Regions from separate parts of the Homo sapiens genome. Here regions 1 and 3 are each linked to region 2. Evidence: fine-mapped expression QTL. A gene starts in region 2. Each other region holds a variant in brackets. All regions are shown on one strand. Distances are between the middles of the regions. Region 1 overlaps SKAP1 (src kinase associated phosphoprotein 1). Region 2 holds the start of HOXB2 (homeobox B2). Region 3 overlaps SKAP1 (src kinase associated phosphoprotein 1).

What was found. PIP is the estimated chance that this variant, and not a neighbour inherited with it, causes the effect.
Region 1: its variant is fine-mapped to the expression of HOXB2 in monocytes after LPS (Fairfax 2014, PIP 0.95).
Region 3: its variant is fine-mapped to the expression of HOXB2 in whole blood (INTERVAL, PIP above 0.99).

Annotation. Positions count from the first base shown.
Region 1 is chr17:48,319,839-48,322,692 of GRCh38, forward strand. All of the region lies in intron 4 of SKAP1 (src kinase associated phosphoprotein 1), which reads right to left. Among named protein-coding and RNA genes, the nearest start is that of SKAP1-AS2, 27 kb to the left of the region's middle. The variant CATTATTATTATT/C (reference allele first, on the strand shown) is at 1,509.
Region 2 is chr17:48,543,718-48,546,217 of GRCh38, forward strand. It overlaps HOXB2 (homeobox B2), which reads right to left and starts at 1,392. Exons shown (of 2, transcript NM_002145.4): 1 at 804-1,392; 2 at 1-30. The coding sequence starts at 1,194. It overlaps HOXB-AS1 (HOXB cluster antisense RNA 1), which reads left to right and starts at 634. Exons shown (of 7, transcript NR_102279.1): 1 at 634-695; 2 at 1,404-1,640; 3 at 1,778-1,847. RefSeq lists an enhancer at 1-260.
Region 3 is chr17:48,390,902-48,393,755 of GRCh38, forward strand. All of the region lies in intron 2 of SKAP1 (src kinase associated phosphoprotein 1), which reads right to left. Among named protein-coding and RNA genes, the nearest start is that of SKAP1, 38 kb to the right of the region's middle. The variant A/C (reference allele first, on the strand shown) is at 1,169.

The DNA.
Region 1 (2,854 bases), 220 kb before region 2:
CTCAAAAAACAAACAAACGAACAAACAAACAAATAAATGAATTCCTCTCTTTTAATAAAAATTTTGAAGGCTTGATAAGAAAGCTTATGACCAAGTATCTAAAATATCCCTTATGTGATAACCAATATGATAACCATCTATTAAATGGACAAATAATCTCATAGTCTTTTAGTAATCCAAAGGTTAAAAAAACCCTGAAAACAAAATTACCAGGATATTTCATGAGGCAAGAGATCCAAAGGCATGCAAGATAACCCAGGAATAAAAATGAAGCTAAAAGGAAAAAAGGATGAGTTTCCTATTGATGATATCTATTATTACCAAGAAACAGTCTCTCATGAACCACAAATAACAGAGTAACAATTCAAGAACATGTCATCAGGAAAAACTCAGCCTTAAGTATTAATTAAGTGATCTTATTGGTTCTCTGTACACCTTAAAAAGCCCCTAAGTCTATTCTGAGAGGTATAATAAATCAGTAATATTATCTTAAGATTAAACTGATACTTCTAGACAAGGATGTCTTTCAAAAGTAAATTTTTTCTTTACTCTCCTGGAAATAAGTTGCTATAAAAACCTATAACATAGTAGAAACTCATAGTGCCCAGCACACTTATAAATGTTAAATAAAAGTAAATTATTTGGCCTGAACTTTATAACTCCTAAAAATACTAATGGTTACTGCAATATAAAAAAGAAAGTAAGTTTCTCTTAAAAATCTTACTAAGGCAAAGAAAACGCAATCAGAGAGAAAAAAATCATACAAGTTTTTATCAAAAGAGAGAGGATTTCTTGGCTGGGTGTGGTGGCTCACACCTGTAATTCCAATGCTTTGGGAGCCGAGGCAGAAGGATTGCTTGAGCCTAGGAGTTTGAGACCAGCCTGGGCAGCACAGTGAGATCCCATCTCTACCTCCACCAATTTTTTTTTTTAAAGAAAAAGCATTTCTTACTATCAGTAATAGTGGTAATTAAAAGAACAATAATGAATAAAATTCCTAGATACTTCAAAACTCTCATTTAACTGTTATGCTGGGCAAGGAGCAGCAGAAGGCTGTGATTATTGAATACATTACACGTCAAATTCTTTCTGTTTCTGGTGGAAATCTATGCTTCCAGGCCTAGGCCAGCCAAGCCAATGACAGGCATCCAGATAATGAGCACCCTTAGCATGTGAGGTCCCAGAATTTCTCCAACATTTTTTAGAGGATGTGATACTAATCAGTAACATGGCTAGCAGTCTCCAACAGAATGGAGAGAAACAAGCAACACTCAGCTAACCAAGAATCTCACTGGAGTATAGAAGGAACTACCCATTTGTATATGTTTTCTAATTACCCAAAAGCAAAGAATGACCCCTCAAGAAATCATTTGGGCCAATTCCCTACCTCTCTAGATATAAATATGTAACTTGTTCAAGATAGAGAGATAGTTAGCCACCCTATTTTAAAAGATTTTCAGGAACAATATTCCACAATGATCTTTTCTATCCAGCTCATCCTTCTGTCT[CATTATTATTATT/C]ATTATTATTATTATTATTATTATTATTATTATTATTAAGATAGAGTCTCGCTCTGTCACCCAGGCTGGAGTGCAGTGGCGCAATCTTGGCTCACTGCAAGCTCCGTCTTCCGGGTTCACACCATCCTCCTGCCTCAGCCTCCCAAGTAGCTGGGACTACAGGCGCCTGCCGCCACGCCCGGCTAATTTTTTTGTATTTTTAGTAGAGATGGGGTTTCACCGTGTTAGCCAGGATCGTCTCGATCTCCTGACCTTGTGATCCGCCAGCCTCGGCCTCCCAAAGTGCTGGGATTACAGGCGTGAGCCACCGCGCTCGGCCTGTTTCATTATTTTTAAAGGTTAAATGGTCTCTCCAGTCCATCTCTCCATTGAAAGGTCCACTGACATTGAAAGGTCCTCAGCACTGCTCACCAACACCATGGCAAGCATCTCCTAATCTTCTCTCTAATCACCCTTTCCTCCCAAAATATGAACCTGACTAAGTCAATCTGTGATTTTTTAAAAAATACTTCACAGCTGCCTATCACCTTCAAAATAAAGGTTGAACATAATCTTCACAATCCATACCCAAATTATTTTTCCAGTTTTATCTTCTCCTGTTCCTACCTGTGCAGCCTATGGTCTAGCCATAGCCTACTACTGAATTCTACCCAAGAAACCCCTTTGAATGTCTCCTTTCATATCTTTGCTTATAGTTCATTATCTGCCTGGCATTATCTTTCCTTATTTTTAACTGCTGACTGTACTTCAAAGCCTACTACCAACTTAAAGTTTTTGTAGAATTTCCCATTCAAGATGGATTTTACATTACTTTGTTCTCTTGCTACATTATAAAATTAGCATATTCTACCTTCATTACTTTTGCACATAAATCTATTTATAAGCCACCAGAGGGCAGGGATAGTCTTGCTCTCCTCTTTATTTCTTAGCACAGAGCTTGCACAGGAAGAGACTGAAATGTTTGCTGAATTGTATTCTGCATATTTGTGTATGCATATATATTTAGACCCATTTCATTTGATATGTGGTTCATTTGGGGGTGGGAAAATTACTAGAATCTACAATAAAGGGAAGTTCATTGACAGTTACACTCAAGGTATAACGGAAAGAGTGGGCTGGATATTTATGTTCTTCTAGCTTTGCTACTTATTGATTGTTGCCATGGGTAAGACATAATATCTCTGAGCAAGTGGCTGCTGTATCTATAGGCGGCAAGTCTATATTCCAGGCAGGAGGAAGGTGACAGAACAAAAGCAAAGGTGAAGACAGGAAGGGCAAAGGGCTTTCTCAACTTTCTTATTTTGGAGAGACAGTTCTTCTAGTGACTTCACTTT
Region 2 (2,500 bases):
CGCCACCAGCCTCCGGCAGTCCCAGGCCATCTGCAGGGAAAACAGGCTCGGCGTCATAGCGGGCCGTGTACTCAGCCCAACCTCAGTTCGGACTACCCCATCCTCCAAAACCAGTATCACCTCTCCCCTTCCTCGCCACCCCACCCCCGCCCCCACCCCAAAGCCGCTCGCTTTACTGCTTTTGGGTTTTCTTCTCTCCCTCTCTAGTCTACAGCCCCGGCCCGGGTCAGGGCAAAGCATTCAGAGCCGCCCACGGGCCACGCAGGGGGCGGAGAGCGGCTCCCTTCGGCGCCGGAACCTCAGATCCCCCTCCCAAGCCCTCCCAGTGGACCCCTCAATTCGGAACTTTCCAACTCAACCGGAGCGAGGGTCAGAAAGATTGTTCTTCACCCCTCTTCCTCCCTAGCTCTGAATTCTTCCTCTTCTCCTAGAGTTGGGGCAGAAAGGACCGAATCTTTTCTGCTTCTAGGGTCTATCCCAGCAACAACATACTCATTCCCCTACACAGATACGGGTGAAAACCTCAATCAAATCATTTTCTTCTAGCAGAAAAAAAGGCGTTTCCCCAACCAGCTTCCAAAATCAGCCATAGGGAGAGAAAGAGAGAGAGAGACAGAAAAAAAAAAAGACGCTGTTAGCGGCCAGGCCTGAACCCCAGTGGGATATTCTACTTCCCCATCCCAGGAATGGAGGGGGTAAGGAACCCCAACAGGCTCGCCACCATTTTTTTTAAACCTCCTTCCACTGCTTTTTCTCCCCCTCTTCTAGCTGCCCCTCACCCCACCCCCACCACGCTTACCGACCTGCAGGCGATCCGACCCCGGAGGCCGGAACGGCGGAGGCGGCCGGAGAAGGAGACGTGGCGGATTGGCTGGGTTTCTTGGCGGATTTCTTCTCTTTCATCCAAGGGAACTCGGGGGCCGGGGGGGCAGCGGGGAGTGGCGGCGGCGGTGGCGGCGGCAGAGCAGGCCCATCTTCGGCTCGCTTTTGGCTCCTGGGTCTCTGAAGGGTGGAGGCGCCGGGCTGGAGGCTGGGGAAGGTTTGCTCGAAAGGAGGAGGAGGAGGAATTAATGTCGACTCCTTGATTGATGAAGTTTGAAATGTCTCCAAGACAGCGGGGAAGGAAGTCAGACACTCGGCGAGCGACGGCTGGCTGTTTATAAACCCAATCTCCCTCTCAAATTCAAAATTCATGGCTTTCAATGGTGGGGGAGGGGGCTGCTGGGGGGGGCGTCAGGAGGGAGGATCGGAAGGGACCCCCCTCCTGCACCCCCCCCGATTTATGTAATGGAGCGATTTTGGGAGGGGGAGATTTCGGTCTCTCTTTTTTTTAATTTTGGGCCTTTATAATTGTATATTGCTGATAAATACAAGCGTATGGGGACTCTCTCTATTAAACCCAGGACTCCAGCGAAATTACAGGGAATTCGTGGTCACGGGACCGGCCTCCGCCAATCGCTCGTCTGGGCCTGGTGGAAAACAGAGAGCATTATTTGGTTTAATTGATTCAAAAACACCAGAGGACCACGACCAGGACACCATGAGCCCCCATTCCTACACCAGTGCCTCACATGCTCTCTCCCCAATGCCTCCGTTTCTCCAGAAAAGCTAGAGGAACCTTTTCCTCATCCCCTTCGAAGGTTAGAAGGTTTCAGAAGCCTGGAAAAGAAGAGACTCTAAGGGAGAAACCTTCCTCTTTTCCAAGTATTTTAATAGAGTAAATTAAGGCCTTCTTTACGTGGCCAGCAGCATCCCCTTCCCTTCTCCCCTTCCCCAGGAAAAGATGAGTGAGGATCTCCGCGTTGGAGGAAGAGGGAGTCGAAAGAGGCTTCCACTCTTTGAAAAAGGTCAGTATTAAGGTGAAAATAAGAAAGAGATTTACAATCATCACACCACTATCCCTGTTACCCTCCAAAAACAACAGTTAAATCTTGGGAAATGGACAGGAACTCCCAGGCAGACACATAGGAGTGAGATGGAGCATAAGGGGCATTTTTGGGCCTCTGGCCTCCATCGCTGTATGGTCTGGGTTCTCTTCTCTGCCCAGTGTTTGCAGCACTGCCTCTGCCCCTTATGTACCCCTGCTTTCCTCACTTTCAGGCTTCCATGCTTCTCTGTGACATCCCCCAAAAACAGGCAGAGTCTAAGATGTGCATGTACCCACTCAAGCCTCAAGCTTGTATCTGTATCCATATCCAGGGACATGAACAAGAACTGAGGTAGCCATTGGTTTAACTTAGAGCACTCTCAAAGTTCAGATCAGCGTTATGTGTGTGCATGAGTGTGGTGGGGAGATTTTCCCCTAGGACAAAGAGACTTTCCCTCCCATTTTTGCCATTGTGCTAGTTAAAAAAGAAAAAAGAAAAAAAAAAAAAAAAGAATCCCTGACAAGGAAGAATTCCCTGAAGATGGTAGGGGTGGAAATAATGACCACTGAGATGATATTCCATTTCTGGCTGCTGGGGGAAAATGTTTTTAAAATTTATTTTATTTTGAGGAG
Region 3 (2,854 bases), 150 kb before region 2:
CCGTCTTCACTAAAAATACAAAAATTAGCCAGGTATGGTGGTGCACGCCTGTAGTCCCAGCTACTCGGGTGGCTGAGGCACAAGAATTGCTTGAATTTGCGGAGGTTGCAGTGAGCCAAGATCATGCCACTGCACTCCAGTCTGGGTGACAGAATGAGACTCTGTCTCAAAAAAACAAAAAACTAACTAACTAACAACAACAACAACAACATCAAAAACATTTTTCTGAACTTCAATCTAAAATCTTAAAGATATAAAATGAAAATATAAAAGGTATGGTTTATTCTGAACCACCAAGGACTATGGTCATTATTACATTAAAAAATGTTATTTAAGAAAAATTGTTCTACTTCCAGATAGCCTCACATATGAAAGAATAAACAAAATAATCATTATGATAAAATTATAAGGAGAGTTATACATTTCAAAGCTATTTTGAAAGGACAGAGACTTGCCATAAAAAACACATAAGATGATCTTCCTTACCAGGTCTTAAAAGTTAAGCCAAGAGATCAACAGTAAGTAATATTCTATCTTTCTCACCTGTAGGGCATTCCAGATTAAAACAGCAATAAATACAACCTCTCATTCCTAGAGAAGTAGATTCACAAAACTCTTTAACTCAGTTGTGAAATCTCAACATTCATCCACTGAATAACAGAGAACTAAGCAAAAATTTGACTGATATAACTGATGAGTTGAGTAATAATGTTGAAGTTGTTGTGGGTTTGTTTTTTCTTCCTTTAAGGATGGGAGGGAGGGATAAGACTGAAAAAGGAAGAAATGAGTTATTAACCTTCCAGATGTGGTCAAATTATTGCTATGACTTTTGAGCCTTTTCAGAGCTATTTAAACTTAGACGGATCATTCAACTACCTCTTCCTTTTTTTTTTTTTTTTTTTCTGCATTGGCACTGAAGCTCCAGTACAAGTAGCAAAATTAAAAAACAGAAAAAGATGTTATGAGTAAATCTTGAAACTTGTGAATAACATAAATGTATTAATAGCACATTATACATTAGTTCTTTTGATAAGCATACTTCATTTGAATGTGTTTTGTTTTGGGGATTTTTAAGCTCAATAATTAACATTTAAGAAAAGTAAAACTCTCTATATAATTAATGGTAATTATATTTACAGTATACTACTTCAAAACTCTTGCTCCCAAG[A/C]GTTTTATCAGGCTAACTCCTTGTCTTTCTTCCTATAATACAAAAATATCAGAATTATACATTCTTAAGCTAAATCTTGTTTTAAAGCTAAATCCACGTTAAGCTGAAAAGAAAACATGAAATTCCCAAAGAAAGTCAGAATTATTTTTATGAGATTTTACTAGTATATCATGTTTCACACAGAGCTATAGGTTAGCCACCCACAAATGAGACACGTTCAAGATATTCTTTCAGCCTGTAGTTTAAATGTCCTGAGTTTTGTGCCATAACCCTGTTACACAAAATGTATTTCTTTATTTCTTTCCATCTCAATATGATATAAATCTACTGGTCTCTTTTTGGAACTCCTTCAGCATTACTAAGTTTCACAGAAGGAAACAATACTCCAAGTTTGCTTCCATTGGCTCTGTCCTTCACTTCCAACAGGGAGCATAAATGACTACTTATCCAAGAAGGGCCATTGAGAGAGAAATTAAGCCATATCTCAATAATAAAAATATTCTATTTTTGGCTGGGCGTGGTAGCTCACTCCTGTAATCCTAGCACTTTGGGAGGCCAAGGTGAGTGGATCACCTGAGGTCAGGAGAGACCAGCCTGGCCAACATGGTAAAACCCCATCTCTACCAAAAATACAAAAACCTTTAGCCAGGTGTGGTGGCTCATGCCTGTAATCCCAGCTACTTGGGAGGCTGAGGCACAAGAATCGCCAGAACCTGGGAGGTGGAGGTTGCAATGAACCAAGATCGCACCACTGCACTCTAGCCTGGGCAACAGAGACTCGGTCTCAAAAAAAATATATATATATATATTTTTTTTTTCTTTACCCCTCCCCCACTCTCAACGTATTCTTGCAGTCAGATGGCCTCCACTGAATCAAACATTTAAAAAATGCTCTACTGTTTCTCCCAATGCGTTAGAATGCCATCAAGTGTCTGAGCACAGATCACAACTGCTTCATTCCAGGTGTCTCACATCTGGTGCTAATCCTGCAGTGACCATCGTAATAAAGCAGGAAGTGCCTTTGCCTGGCTTTCATACTAGCCACTCTCCAAAGGGCTCAATGAAAACTTAGACTTGGAATGTGAAAGCTGTTTAGTTTTTAAGAAAAGCAATGAAAATCACAGCTTAGGACAACAAATACCACAATAGGGCTTCATTTCCTTGGAATCACAGAAATTGCTATCCGTTTTTATTTTGTGTTACATGGAAAATATTAGCCTTCATTGGTAACACTTTCAAACAAAAAGAAAAGAGTATGTAAATATAGATAGGATTTTATTTTTTGTTTCTAAGTCTAAAAAAAGATAGCTATTTTTTGTTTCTAAGTCTAAAAACAGAATAGCTAAAGTGATTTGTACTGAAAAACATGAGCACTTGGAGAACACCCAGGATTCTTGACACAATTGTCTTTTCCTGTGGTCATTCACTCTAGACAACAAAAAATAGCAAAAAGCACATTATAATAGCTGTGATAGAGTCAGATGCTTCCATTTACAGCAAGTCCACAACCATGGCAAATACCAGTGAATGCCAAGCCAGCCATAAAAATAAGAGCTAAGCCCCTAAAGTTTACCAAGAATCACAGACAGTGCTACTTTTATTTCTCTCCACCCTTTTGTTTCTAGAGCAATACACGTTGAGGAAAGAATTAAAGGAAGCAAGGAAACAACAAAGAGACTAGGAAGT